4 linked regions of the Homo sapiens genome follow. The gene in region 3 interacts genetically with the main gene of each other region. Each region holds a gene or a part of one and is shown on either strand. Other genes may lie near its edges.

What was found.
Region 1: changes in DAZAP1 (region 3) and RAB2A together harm fitness less than expected from each alone (positive genetic interaction), as found in Homo sapiens cells (one large-scale study listed by BioGRID).
Region 2: changes in DAZAP1 (region 3) and TRAPPC12 together harm fitness more than expected from each alone (negative genetic interaction), as found in Homo sapiens cells (one large-scale study listed by BioGRID).
Region 4: changes in DAZAP1 (region 3) and CARM1 together harm fitness less than expected from each alone (positive genetic interaction), as found in Homo sapiens cells (one large-scale study listed by BioGRID).

Annotation. Positions count from the first base shown.
Region 1 is NC_000008.11:60,617,987-60,621,065, reverse strand, and holds part of RAB2A (ras-related protein Rab-2A), read right to left. Parts: intron 2,487-3,079; coding exon 2,418-2,486; intron 393-2,417; coding exon 297-392; 3' UTR 1-296.
Region 2 is NC_000002.12:3,382,694-3,386,193, reverse strand, and holds part of TRAPPC12 (trafficking protein particle complex subunit 12), read right to left. Parts: intron 1-3,500. UniProt on the Homo sapiens protein: Component of the TRAPP complex, which is involved in endoplasmic reticulum to Golgi apparatus trafficking at a very early stage.
Region 3 is NC_000019.10:1,421,086-1,424,585, reverse strand, and holds part of DAZAP1 (DAZ-associated protein 1), read right to left. Parts: intron 3,439-3,500; coding exon 3,328-3,438; intron 2,239-3,327; coding exon 2,190-2,238; intron 1,167-2,189; coding exon of another isoform or gene 1,075-1,166; exon of another isoform or gene 876-1,074; intron 1-875. UniProt on the Homo sapiens protein: RNA-binding protein, which may be required during spermatogenesis.
Region 4 is NC_000019.10:10,913,053-10,916,552, reverse strand, and holds part of CARM1 (histone-arginine methyltransferase CARM1), read right to left. Parts: intron 2,677-3,500; coding exon 2,499-2,676; intron 147-2,498; coding exon 56-146; intron 1-55. UniProt on the Homo sapiens protein: Methylates (mono- and asymmetric dimethylation) the guanidino nitrogens of arginyl residues in several proteins involved in DNA packaging, transcription regulation, pre-mRNA splicing, and mRNA stability.

The sequences.
Region 1 (3,079 bases), on a different chromosome or scaffold from region 3:
TGTAGTGTTTAATACAATTCAGTTCGTAGTTAAGGGCACAAGACAACATTTAACAAAAATAATCACATCAATTGACCTAGAAATCAAATGCAAATAGATATGAATACAATCTCCAAAATCTGTCTTTTAAGTGAACATTAACCATTTATTCAAAGTTATACAAGAATTTGACGGATTAAAGTCTTCTGTGACATAAAGCCATTTCAAATAGTTTCATGTCTCAGCTGAGCAGGAGGAGAGGGGGTGAAAGAATAAGTGAGTAGGCCCCGTTGGGCAGCTAGACAGTAAAAACAGACTCAACAGCAGCCGCCCCCAGCCTGCTGTCCTCCCTGATTGCCTGCATGTGTTGCATTGGTAGCAGCATGCTGAGGGCCAATTTTAATGCCATTTGCCTGAAATAAAAGAGAACAGAACAATAAATATGACCAGACAATATAGTTTAACTAATTCTTAAAAAACTCATTTAATTCTTTATGATACAATTTTATCAAACAACTGAGAAAAATACAGCAAGTAGATTTTAGCAACAATTAAAACAATATCTCCTAAGGGATGTTCCTTCCTTTTAAAAACACTGTGGAAATGTTTCTGAAAATAATTCTTTATCATACCAGGTACGGGGTAAACAGTTATTGGATAATGCTGCTTTTCAGGAAATTCTCATAATGCAGAAATCATTTAAAATAATTATTGCAAGTAATCTTTAAAGCATAAAAATACCCAAAGCCCATGCTGCTTTAATACAACGTAAAATCTTTTCTCTAGACAGTGTTTCTGTTCCATGTTGAATCAGCTGTACAGGCTAAGGGCATATGAGTGTTCTGTGTCATCAATAATTTCTATGATCCCCAAAGACATGGCAGCTTGCCAAGAACCCACACACAGAGTAGTTCTTTCATTCATCAAACTCACACTTATGTCTTAACCCTCACTCCCTCAAGTGGATTTTACCTAAAAATACAACACTTTGAGAAAAGTAATACAGTAGCTTCAGAAATTAAGCTCTTAAGGAAACTTTACGTCACAGTAAATCTCAGATTTATAGTGCTTGGCAGTTGTTCTGCAACAGTAGTAGCCTTGGGGTTTCTGGCACTAGCTCAGTATTGACAGCAGCTGATGTGGTTTCTTTTCGCTCTTTTGACTCCTCTTTAATAAAAAGCATGCCCTATGGCTCATTGATTTTGCCCCCTCTGGGCTGGTAGCAACTTCTTGAGGAGTCAAGGAGTCAGACTTGGCATTAGGCCAAATAAATAGCACGGCCTGTTGGCTCCCAACAGCACATTACAATCAAAGCTGCATAAGGCACAGTAAAGCAGTCAGCTACTATATGAAACCAGACAGAAACAATGAATGTGCCCTTTTAGATAGAGGCCCAATTACTGTTCAATTTATATGGCATTAGTCTCTGAATGGTGTCACCTTTAAACTAACTCAAGAAGTACCGTCATATAAGCCTAGAAGATAGGATTTAGAAACTATATTACTCCAAATTAAACAATGAAAAAATCATGTACTTTTTGGAAACCTTAGGTAAACTGCTGTTTGTCTGAGCAGAGACTACTGAAGTAATAGAGAGCCTCATTTATGTATAGGATGAGAGAGACATACATAATGGCTTCCTAACACAATGCTTTTCTAACTGCAACTGGGGAGAAACCAGGGCTTTTCTTTCAGAAGCCAGAAATCTTAATACAGAATGGCAAAAATATTTATGTAAGAATAAGTAGGCTACATCCACATAAACATTTTGAAATAAATACAGATAAATGCAGAGTGGGGATGTGGGTCAAGTGATGATCTTTGGTGAACACTCTGAATTAGATGCTTCAAAGCTTTACATTTTATCCTAATCATGTTGACCAAAACAGGATCAAAATAACATTACAAAAAACCCTATGCCAAATGCCAATTTTATATATATATATATGAATTTAGTCTCCTGAAAACATGCTATGCTATATTGGGAGTAATTTCCAAATTTGGTATTTCCCTCTTTCCTGCCAGATAACAGAGAGAGCATCTTGCATTAGTACATAGTACATGCATTTATATACCAGAACATTATTCCCAAAGCAGATGACACCATATGGTCATGTGGATAAAAGTGGATTTTCTTTTCTCTTTGGGGGATTTATATTATTTTGCATTGCTTGCAATGAATGGATAGGGCCACTTACTTTAATCCATTTCCATAGACAAAGTGTTGCTCTACTAGAACATAAATATTTAACTACTATACCACATATACCAATTTTTCAGTTGGATGACTGTAAACTAATGGTGTTAACTGATTATCATGATTGATTTTAGGAATTAAAAAAATTATAAAATAATGAATTATAAAATAAAAAATATAAAATAGTAATCAAAAGTGAACTCTAAATTAATATTGACCAACAATATTTATATGTATATACCTCATTATTAATGTCAAAGACTCCTTCTTGAATTTTTTCATAAATTTCTTTTGCTGTATTAATAAATGCCTGAAATATAGAGAAATTGGTTCATATTATATAAAACCAAAGCAGTAAAATAACATTATATATGCTCTATAGAATATCATAACATTCAACATATGAAAGTCAATCGACGTAATACATATTAATAAAGAACAAAGATATTAATAACATATTAATAAAGAACAATCGATGTAATACATTATATTAATAAACAAGCCCTCATGATCATCAATAGACATAGAAAAAGCATTTGACAAAATCCAACATTTCATGATAAAAACACTCAAGTCGAAATAGAAGGGAACTCCTCAACCTGATCTAAAGAATGGCATCTAAGAAAAACTACATCTAACATCATATTCGAAGATGAAGGCTGAAAGCCTTTCCCCTAAGATTAAGAACAAAGGATGTACGCACATGCTAATTAGCATTACAAACAGCATTATTCACAACAGCCAACAAGTGCAAACTACAGAAATGTTCAGTCAATAAAAAACAAAATTTGAGATATTCAATTAGTAGAATATTATTTGGCCATAAAAAGGAATGAAGTACTGATTCATGCTACAATGTGGATGAACCTTGAAAACACTGTGCTAAATGAAAGAAGGCAGACA
Region 2 (3,500 bases), on a different chromosome or scaffold from region 3:
TAGATAAGACTACCCTTTTCTCACTGTCAACACTTCCATCATAGTATTCCCAATGAGTCAGCCTTCCCAAAACATTATTTTAAAGTACATAATCCAAGTTATACATTTTGAAGAAGTTTCCGGTTCAGCCTGGTCAGCTACTAATTCCCTTATACATTCATCCAATAATTGTTAAGTATAAATGAATAAAAAATCCAATGAAAAGGAGTAAAACGTTTTTTTTCCTGCCATGTTTCACCGGGAGCCCGAAGAACAAATTGCCCTAGAACCCCAAAGGGGGAGCCCCCTGTGCATGGTAAGGCTGCTCCTTCGGGTCCTTCCTGTGCAGGGATAGAGGCCGGGCACAAGGAGCAAACAGGCAGCATGAGGCAGTGCCCCCTCTGAAGTCTCCCAGCAGGACTTGAAGGCACTAGCGTGGTCTGCGTATTTTATTTTAGAAATAAGAATTGATTTCGATATAAGCTAATGATGAGAGAAAGGGATCTTCCCTCCGTCTCATCTACCCTCAGCCCTAACAAAATTCTAGGTTCTAAAGCTAATTCTGATTCAATCTCACAGATTTTAAAAGTTTTATTGCCTTTGTGAAGAAACTTTTTAAAGAAACAATTCTTACTATTGTGAAGATGAAGCTGCTTTAAACCTGTAAGATTTAGGGAAATCTGTTTATCAGAGATATAATAACAAAAAACATCGCCTAGAAAAACCACCAAAATAATAAAAATTAAGGTAAAATGCTTCTAAATTATAAAGCTTAAAAACTTTATAAATTGTAAATTAAGGAGAACTGATAAAATGGGAATGTCCAAAATTTTCATTAATACCTGCAAACCACTTTTGAGAAGAGAAGAAAATAAAAAAATAAATTTTATTCTTAAGTAAATACCAAAGTAATAAAAAGCCCTAATAATTTAGGGCAAGGATGATCACTTTTGCTTTCACACAAATAAAATCTAGATGCAGGAAAATGCTTGTAAGTAAGGATCTGAGGGTTTCTTCTCTAGAAAATCAAGAGGAATGCTCAAATAAAAATGATATAAAACGTGATTTAGATGATGCTTTTATGAATGGGAAGACATACATATATTATAAAGCTACATCTATATAAATTATATACATAAGATTTTGTGAGAATGGACATATAATTTGTAGCAAAATAGCTTCTTCACTTCAAGGGTTTCCTTACTCTAATCTTATTCCAATGTAAGGTTCAAATGCAAAGCAGACACTAGTAATAACCATGTATATATGACGAGATAGTTCTATAACCATAAAAAAAGTATAACCAGTAGTTAAGTCTTCCTACAAAGAAAATATAGGGTCCAGAGGGTTTACCAGTGAATTCTACCAAAGATTCCGTACAGATAATTCCTACAGTACAAAAATTCTTGCAGAGAAGAAAAAAGACACATGACCCAATTCACTTTATAAGGCTAATATAACCTTGAGACCAAAATTTGACAAGGCCATACTAAAAGGGAAGCTATCATCTCACTCATGAACACACATGCAAAAATCTTGAAATATTAGCTAACTGAATCAGCAATGTATTTATTTTCTACCAAACTCAGGTAATCCCAGAAATGTACTGTTGGTTTAATGCGATAGATTAAATAAAAGTACATGACTATCTCAATAGATGCACAAGAAAGTATCTAATAAAATTCAGCATCTGCTCAAGATAAAACCTGTCAGCAAACTAGCAACAGAAAGTAACTTCCTTAATGCAATCAAAGGTATCTACCAAAAACCTAAAGGAAACCTCAAATTAACAGTGAAACGTTTAAAGCATTCTCTTTAAAAGTAGAAAAAAGATAAAGATGTCCTCTTCAACATTTTTATGCTGCCTAATACTGGAGTCCTCGGGCAGGATTAAGGCAAGAAAAATAACTAAAAGCTACAATAAAAACTGAAAAGAAAAAAATACAAACCTTCATTCTTCGTGTATGATTATTTATGTAGAATACATCAAAAATCTATGGTATAAAGACTGAAATATTGGGCCAGGCACGGTGGTTCAGGCCTGTAATCCTAGCAATTTGGGAGGCCGAGGAGGGTGGATCACCTGAGGTCAGAAGTTCAAGACCAGCCTGGTCAACATGGTGAAACACTGTCTCTACTAAATATACAAAAATTAGCCAGGTGTGGTGGAGGGCGCCTGTAATCCCAGCTACTTGGGATACTGAGGCAGGAAAATCACTTGAACCCAGGAGGCGGAGGTTGCAGTGAGCCGAGATCGCACCACTGTGCTCCAGCCTGGGCAACAGCAGCGAAACTTCATCTCAAAAAAAAAAAAAAAAAAAAAAAAAAAAAAAAAAAAAAAAACAAGACTGAACTATCACAAGGGAATATGTAGCACACATCAAAGGAAGAGACGATTTTCCTTGAGTGATGTGTAGACAAATCATGCAGCTGGGAAAAAATAAACTTGGAATCTTGTCTCACCACAGACACAGTATCAATCTCAGGGACGTTAAAAACTTAACTGTGAAGGCCGGGTGCGGTGGCTCACGCCTGTAATCCCAGCACTTTCGGAGGCCGGGGCGGGCGTATCACGAGGTCAGGAGTTCAAGATGAGCCTGGCCGACATGGTAAAACCCCGTCTCTACTAAAAATACAAAAATTAGCCAGGTGTGGTGGCGGGCACCTGTAATCCCAGCTACTCTGCTACTCGGGAGGCTGAGGCAGGAGAATCGCTTGAACCCAGGAGGCAGAGGTTGTAGTGAGCCAAGATTGAGGCACGACATTCCAGCCTGGGTGACAGAGAAAGACTCCGTCTCGGGCGGGGCGGGGGTGGGGGATCAAAAATTAACTGTGAAAGGCAAAACTTCAAAACTTTCAGAAGAAAATATAAGAGAATATATTTTCAGAGTAGGCAAAGCCTCTTAAACTAGGCATAATCAGTACAAACCATAAAGGGAAAATGGATACATCTGCTATATTAAAATGGAAAGTTCTATCATTAAAAACCTAAAAAAAGTGAAACAAACAAATGTAACTGAGAAAGGATTAACACGAAGAATACATAAAGAATCCCTACAAATTAATAAAAGCACACTAAATGATCCATTAGAAAAATAAGCAACAGAGCTGAAAGAGGTATACCTTTGAACATCCATGTTGAGAAACCACTTGGTATTATCTAGTAAAGTTTAAAAAGCACATTATCTTATCACTTTGATAACTATACATCTTGATTTTTCCCAGAACAATTCAATTTTTCACCCATGGTTTAAGTTATTTCTATTATTTTATTAGTATTATTATTTTATGAGACATAGTCTGGCTCTGTCACCCTGGCGGGAGTGCAATGGGACGATGATGGCTTACTGCAGCCTCGATCTTCTGGGCTCAAGCCCATCCTCCTGCCTCAGCCTCTGGAGTAGCTGGGACTACAGGTGTGCACCACCACACTCAGCTATTTTTGTATTTTTTGTAGAGATGGGGACTCAATATGTTGGCCAGGCTGGTCTCAAACTTCTGAGCTCAAGTGATCCTCCTGC
Region 3 (3,500 bases):
AAGCTGAAGAGACAGGGGCCAGGGCTGCTGTAGCTGGGACCAGGCAGAAACAGGACAAGCAAAACTGGGGGCGGGGAAAGATGGAAACGGGGCAGAAAGGGCAGCTCAGACTGTGAGGGGACAAAGGTCACTGTGGTTCAGGAGCCTCCCACCGTCCTGAGCACACGTGTGCACCTGAGCGTGACTGTGCACGCAGTGTCTGCAACCAGACGGAGGGGGAGGGGGGAGGGGGAGGGGGAGGAGGAGGGGGAGGGGGAAGAGGAGGAGGAAGAGGAGGAGGGACCAGGAAGGCAAGGCACACAGCGAGAGGAGCGCAGGATGGAGAAGACCTGAGGGGACTGAGAGGCGAACGAGGCAGCGGCTGGAGCGGGCGGGCCGAGGGTAGACGTGGGAGGGCCAAGCAGGGACCCGCACAGACACTGTGTGCCCGAGACACAGGCGGGGTCCCTGACAGGGACATGGCCATGACCTTCAGTCAGTGGAGAGGAAGAGGGAGGAGGTGGCGGGGAGGGGGACACAGACCCGTCTCAGAAGATGCAGAAAGGCCAAGGGAAGGGGACACACTCTCTGGGAGGACCCGCTAAGCAGCGCCGCAGCGTCTCTCCGGCCCTCCACTCGCCTGACACCCAAGGGACACTTTCAAAGCCCAACAGCTAAGGACATGTGGCCACGTGCTGGCCCCGAAGTGCTCTGTACACCAGTGTGGACTCAGCGACACTCGCCACGTCCCGTCCACACGGGACAGGACAGGACGCGAGGAGAAGGGGCGCCAGCTCTGGGCAGCCGGAGGGGGACCGGGAGGATCTAGAAGCAACCCTCAGATTCCCGCGCGCTCAAGTTTCCCAAGATCAGAGGCAGTATTGGAACACAGCATCGGTGATGAAACAACGTATTTAGAAGTAGACATTTTCGCAAACTGCAGGAGTGTCTGAAACCACAGGGCTCGCCTGGTCCGGGCACAGTGCAAGAGGCGCTGGGTCCTGGGGGAGGCGCCCTGAGCGCTGTCTAGGAATGCGGCTGTCAAGAGGCGACATCACCACTGAGGAAGCGGGACAGAAACACCTGAAACTTCGTTTACACCCCACTGGAGCAAAGCCGCTCCCTCCTCTGACTGCGGGACTGGCCTGTACCTGTGTGATATAATTTAGCACCTGGAGAAGAGAAATCTAAAGAGATATCGTTAATCACACACAATTCACAGAGAGAAAAGGAAAAACAGCTTACTTAACATCACTGTACTTTACTATGAAACACTTAAGTACGTCACTAAGCATGTATGTCTAAATTAAGTTACGACTAAGACTTAACAGCGTAACCGACATGGAGGAGGAGCACTCCTAACCGTGGGGAGGGAGGTTCAAATGGCAAACTATGCTCCAGCATGGTGGGCATGCTGCGGCGCCACCTGGCGCTCGGGGCTGCCCCGACTGACCTGGGCCGGTGGTGCGGGGGCGGCACGGACGTGGCGGGCAGACCCAGGCTGCAGGTCTGCTCACGTGGCCGGCCAAAAGCAGCTGATGAACCAAAACCATGCGGGCGGGCGGGACAGACAGCAGCAGCCACGGAAAAGGGGCACAGAAACTGGGCGCCCATCGTCCCAGCTCCACAAACCAGCATGGATGGGTGTGCAAGAAGCTGAGGGAAAATGAGGGGAGGCCCTGAGGTGACTCCTCACCCCTCCTCCCACCTGCCCTGCTGACTTCAGAGAGGGGAGAAAACTGAAAAAAAAGAAAAAGAAAAGAAAAGGAAAAAAGAAAGAAAGAAAAAAAAAGCATGGGATGGATCACGGAAAATCCAAACTCCACACCGAGCCAGCTGACCCAGCTGACGACACGAAATGAGACCGGCCACACTGGGAGGACTGGATGAGGGTGAAGGAAGGTCAAATGCAGAAGGACCACACTCTTCCGGACAGTGAAAAACAGAAGCCAGGCCGAGACTCATGACAAGTCGTAAAAACTTCAAAAGAACAAGCCAAAAAACAATGTGTGACGTCTGACCTCGGGAAGCACAGACAGGCTGAATGGGGTGCACATGAGGAGCCCACGTTTTAGTCATTTGTCTCCAAATCGTCCCTTCCTGAGGCTGTTTGCTACAGCCGCCACCTGTGTGTGCCTGGCGGGTGAGATAGTTTGCCATCTGAGGGAGGAGCAGGGAGAAGGCCGAGGTCAAACTAGATCTGCCCTTACCTCGGGGCCTCTGCTTCTCGGCGTCATAGATCATGACTACCTCCGTGACCTGGAAGGAGAGGGTGGCGTCAGCACGGACACCAGGGCCAGCACCACAGGTGGTCTTCCGAGGGCACAGCCTGTTCCCACGAACCCAAACTCTCGCACAGGGTGCGCCCTCCCTGAGCGGGGGAGGTGCACGGGCAACAGCTGCTCCGTGGGGCTGCTGTCTGAGAAAGGCTGGAGCCCCAACACTCCCAGGGCCAGACGCAGGCAGGGAGAAGCAGCTCCAGGGCAGGCGTCTGGATACCCGCCTCCGGGCTGCCCGTGGCCCCGCTCACGTGTGTGCTGACGGACATGAAGGGCCAACAACGCCGACCACGCATCCTAGCAGGGGACGTGGGAGCCAGGAGACCCCACAGAAGCCCTTCCCACCCAAACGCGGGAAGCAAAGGGCACGCTCGGCCCTCACTCGAAGTGGCGGGGCAGCCACACACAGCTCCTCTGCAGACCCTGCTCTTCCAGGCCCCGCTCAGGCCTCTCATTCCTGGCCCAGGCCCGTGGCACCCTCAGGTACCACCTGATGAACGTGCGCAGTACTCAGGCACGCAGGGCTGTCCTGCTGGCGGGGCTCGGAGTGTGACCTGCGGGGCACGGCAGGAGTCCCAGCAGGACCTTGGGGTGACCACACGCCCCTGCCTTGGGTGACTAGGAGGGCTCCCCGCCGGCCCCCTCCGGCTGTCCCAGCTCCCTCTGGCACTGGGCTCAACGGAGCTCGGGCATTCTCCCACCTGCCCAGTGGAAAGTCAGCTCTGTGGGGCTGGCTCGCCCAGGCCACACTGAACCCCGTTTCTGTGTAACTGCCCTTCTCTGACACTGGACCCCACGGTGTTCACAATGGAATCGGGCGGCCGCCCTGAAGGCTGTCAGGCTGGTTCACCGCCCAACCACCCTACTGGGACACGAAATGGCCATGAAGGCAAAGGCCGGGCTTTCCACCTTTCCGGAGGGCGCAGGCGTTGGGGAAATACGAGACAGCGAGCTCCCAGCCTGAAAGGCCCGTGCACCTGTGGCTCGGCCACTCCAGCCCCAAGAAGGCCCAGGCCTGAGCAGAAGCGGCTCTGTCCCCACAGTGCTGCCGGGGTGGGGAGAAACTCACCACTCCGAACTTCTTGAAGTATTCCCTGAGCTCTGTCTCACCACAATTGTGAGGAATTCCACCGACAAATATCTTATTTGATTTACTGTTATCGCTCCTGGGTCCTTTCTGCTGTTGAAGAAGGGAAGGATAGTTAGTTCACACGGGAACCCTCCAAACCCTCCCGCGAGCTG
Region 4 (3,500 bases), 9.5 Mb from region 3:
TGTCCCTGAGAAGGCAGGCTGTGGGGCCCAGGCGGGACACCCAGGGCACACTCACCAGAAGTTGGCCTTGGTGAACTGCTCCATGTAGAGCTGTTCATCCGTGAAGGGTGCAAGGTGGACGTCACCAATGGTAGGAAACATGTTTCCTGGGAGTGGGGCAGGGAGGGGTGCTGGCGTCAGGTGACACATCCCACACTGCCTGGCAGAGCTTCCAAAGGACCCCAAGACCCCCAACCCTGGGTGCTCCCAGCCTGTCATCCATTCGTTCCTGCACTCCTGTGACAGTGGCACCGAGCGCCTATTCTGATCAGTGTTTCATCACCACCACGGGTACCTGACCTGCACCAGCTCACGAATTCCACCTGAGACTGGGAGGCTGGTGGCTCATCTTTATGTCCTATTACTAGACCTGGCAGGTGTGAGGGACCTGCCAAAGACTCACGGGGAAGCAGGCAGTGCCCGGGATGTGGCCAGGCGCTGCCTCTCAGGCCCTGCCGTCTGTGCATGTGTGCAGCCGGGAAAGCATAGCAAAGTTGCTCTGGACAGAGGGAGGGTGGTGGGCCCCGGGCTACCCCAACGCCGCTGGGGACCTCAGTTGAGGCCAAGAGCCAGGTGGGGGAAGCCAAATCCACACCACAGGGACTGCCTAGGTTCTGGCACAGGCACCCAGCCGGCAGGATGGGCCACTTGGCCTGCCTGGTCTGGGCACACAGACTGAGGGAAGGGCAGGGCCTCCCTCTGTGACTCAAGGGTAGACGCATGAGTCAGGGCCAGTGGCAGGGAGGATCAGGGCCCCGCAGCCCCGCCTGCCCCAAGGAGCACCTGGCCTCCAGATGTGGGCCCCCCAGCCTTGCAAGCTGGGGGAGGAGATCCTGAGGTATCAGTGGGACTCTGCCTCCTCCTTACGCCACCAGGCTGTACCCGAGGCGAGAGCTGCAGGGCTGCAGCTGCTGGAACGGGGAGGGAGATGCACATGCTGCGGCTTCTGCCCTGGGGGACCTGGGGGCACCATGGGAAGTGACCCAGCCTGGAAGGAACCTCTGGCTCCTGCTGACCAGAAGACATGTGACTGGGAGAGGGGAGGGCTGCCTTTAACCCCTGGAAGAGCTTCCTGAGCTGGACAGGAGTCCTCCTTGCACAGGCCTGGCCTCCCCCCTCCCTGCAAGCTGGCTGCTGGGACGTCGGGGGCACATGCAGCTGCCCACAGAGCCTGACTGCCATCTGGCTTCATGTCCCATCGGGAGGGGCCCTCTCTGCTGGGGCTGTCCCCACCCCCATCCCCACCATCAGGGCAGAAGGGGAGGAGAGTGGGGCCCACAGCCCCTGGAGCAGCCTTGCTTCCCATACTCACACCCAAGACATGAGACACAGCTGTGGGACGCCACCTCCCACCTCCAGGAGCACAGCCAGCCAGGACCCTAGGGCCTGGATCCAGGGCGGGCCAGAGATGAGAGTGGAAGCTTCCCCCCTGCCCCTGCCTGCACAAGCCCCACCAGCCTGCTGCTGCCCACGCTCCATCCCATGGCTGCTACCCTGGCTGGGGACCTGTACCCTGCCACACGCACACACAGCTGCTTGCCTGTACAGAAATGCTCAGACGCTCACATACCTAGCATGAGAAGAGCCACAGGCACATGCCTCAGGCGTCAGGGCTGCACAGACCCCAAGACAGATGGGCAAATAGAAACAGTCACCCAGGCCAGGCACAGTGGCTCATGCCTATAATCCCAACACTTTGGGAGGCTGAGGCGGGTAGATCACCTGAGGTCAGGAGTTCGTGACCAGCCTGACCAACACGGTGAAACCCCATCTCTACTAAAAATACAAAACTTAGCTGGGCGTGGTGGTGCACACCTGTAATCCCAGCTACTCAGGAGGCTGAAGCACAAAAATTGCTTGAACTGGGGAGGTGCAGGTTGCAGTGAGCCGAGATCGCACCACTGCACTCCAGCCTTGGCAACAAGAGTGAAACTCTGTCTCAAAAAAAGAAACAGTCACCCAGTGACCAGAGGCCATACCCAGAGGCACGGATGGGAAGTGACAGATGGGCTTGCCAGACAGCTACCTCACCTCCTCACACACGTACACTCGCACCCACACCCCTGCATTTGCACACATGCTCGCCCACCCCACCTCCTGGACTGTGAGGAGAGCAGGGCTTGTTGGGGAACTGCTGACCACAGAACCTGTCCCAATCCCCACTCCCAGCCAGAGGCTGTCCCGCAGGAGCAGGACATGGGACGGCAGAGGTGCCAGGAGATCCTGTGTACCCTGTCTGGGCGAGTGGGCAGCTGGGTGTCTGGCCGTGTTTGGGGCCCAGGGCTCCAAAAGCCACAGCTGGCTGGAGTGGGGTTGGGGTGGGAGCGGGGGAAAAGCCCAGGCTTCCCTACACCCCGGGCCACCGACAGTAAGCAGGGAGCTGAAGCACTGATGGCCTGGCTCAGCGGCAGCCAGGGCCTCCACCGAGGGGCCTGGCCTGTGTACCCCCCAGTGCTCACCGCTGGGCTTCAGGTACTTCTTGGCGTGGAGGTAGCTCTCCAGCATGCGCTCGTTGAAGAGCATGTAGCCCATGGGCTCCGAGATGATGATGTCCACCTGCTCGGGGAGTGACACCTCCTCCACCTTGCCCGGGATGACCACGATGCGGTCCGTCAGGTTGTTACTCTTCACCAAGACCTGCAGGCGGGCAGGGCCATGTGGGCTTCCCTGCGTCTTCCTGCCATGGGGCCCTCCCTAGACCTGCTCTCAAGGGACAGCCTCCATCCACACATGGGCATTGGGTGCCCCTCTGCCTGCTTCGCTGGCGCCCCAACCATGGCTGCGATTGGCCATAGCCTGTTAAGAGCTCACTGTGGGCCGGGCACGGTGCCTCATGCCTGTAATCCCAGCACTTTGGGAGGCCGAGGCAGGCGGACTGCTTGACCTCATAAGTTGGGAGACTAGCCTGACCAACATGGAGAAACCCTGTCTCTACTAAAAATACCAAAAAAAAAAAACTATTTTTTTTTTCTTTGAGACAGATTCTCACTCTGTTGCCCAGGCTGGAGGTGGTAGTGGCGCCATCTCGGCTCACTGCAACCTCTGCCTCCCGGGTTCTAGCGATTCTCCCACCTCAGCCTCCCGAGTAGCTGGGACTACAGGCACCCACCACCACGCCTGGCTAATGGGGTTTTGCCACGTTGGTCAGGCTGGTCTCGAACTCTTGACCTCAGGTGATCCGCCCACCTAAGCCTCCCAAAGTGCTGGGATTACAGGTGTGAGCCACCATGCCTGGCCTAAAAATACAAAAATTAGCCAGTTGCAGTGGTGGATCCCAGCTATTCAGGAGCCTGAGACAGGAGAATCACTTGAACCCGGGAGGTGGAGGTTGCAATGAGCCAGGATCGCACCACTGCACTCAAGCCTGAGCAACAGAGTGAGACCCCCCCCAAAAAAAAAGAGAGTTCACTGTGACCCCGGCCCTGCCTCAGGGCCGTCCCCTGCTGCGGCCTCCTAGGTCC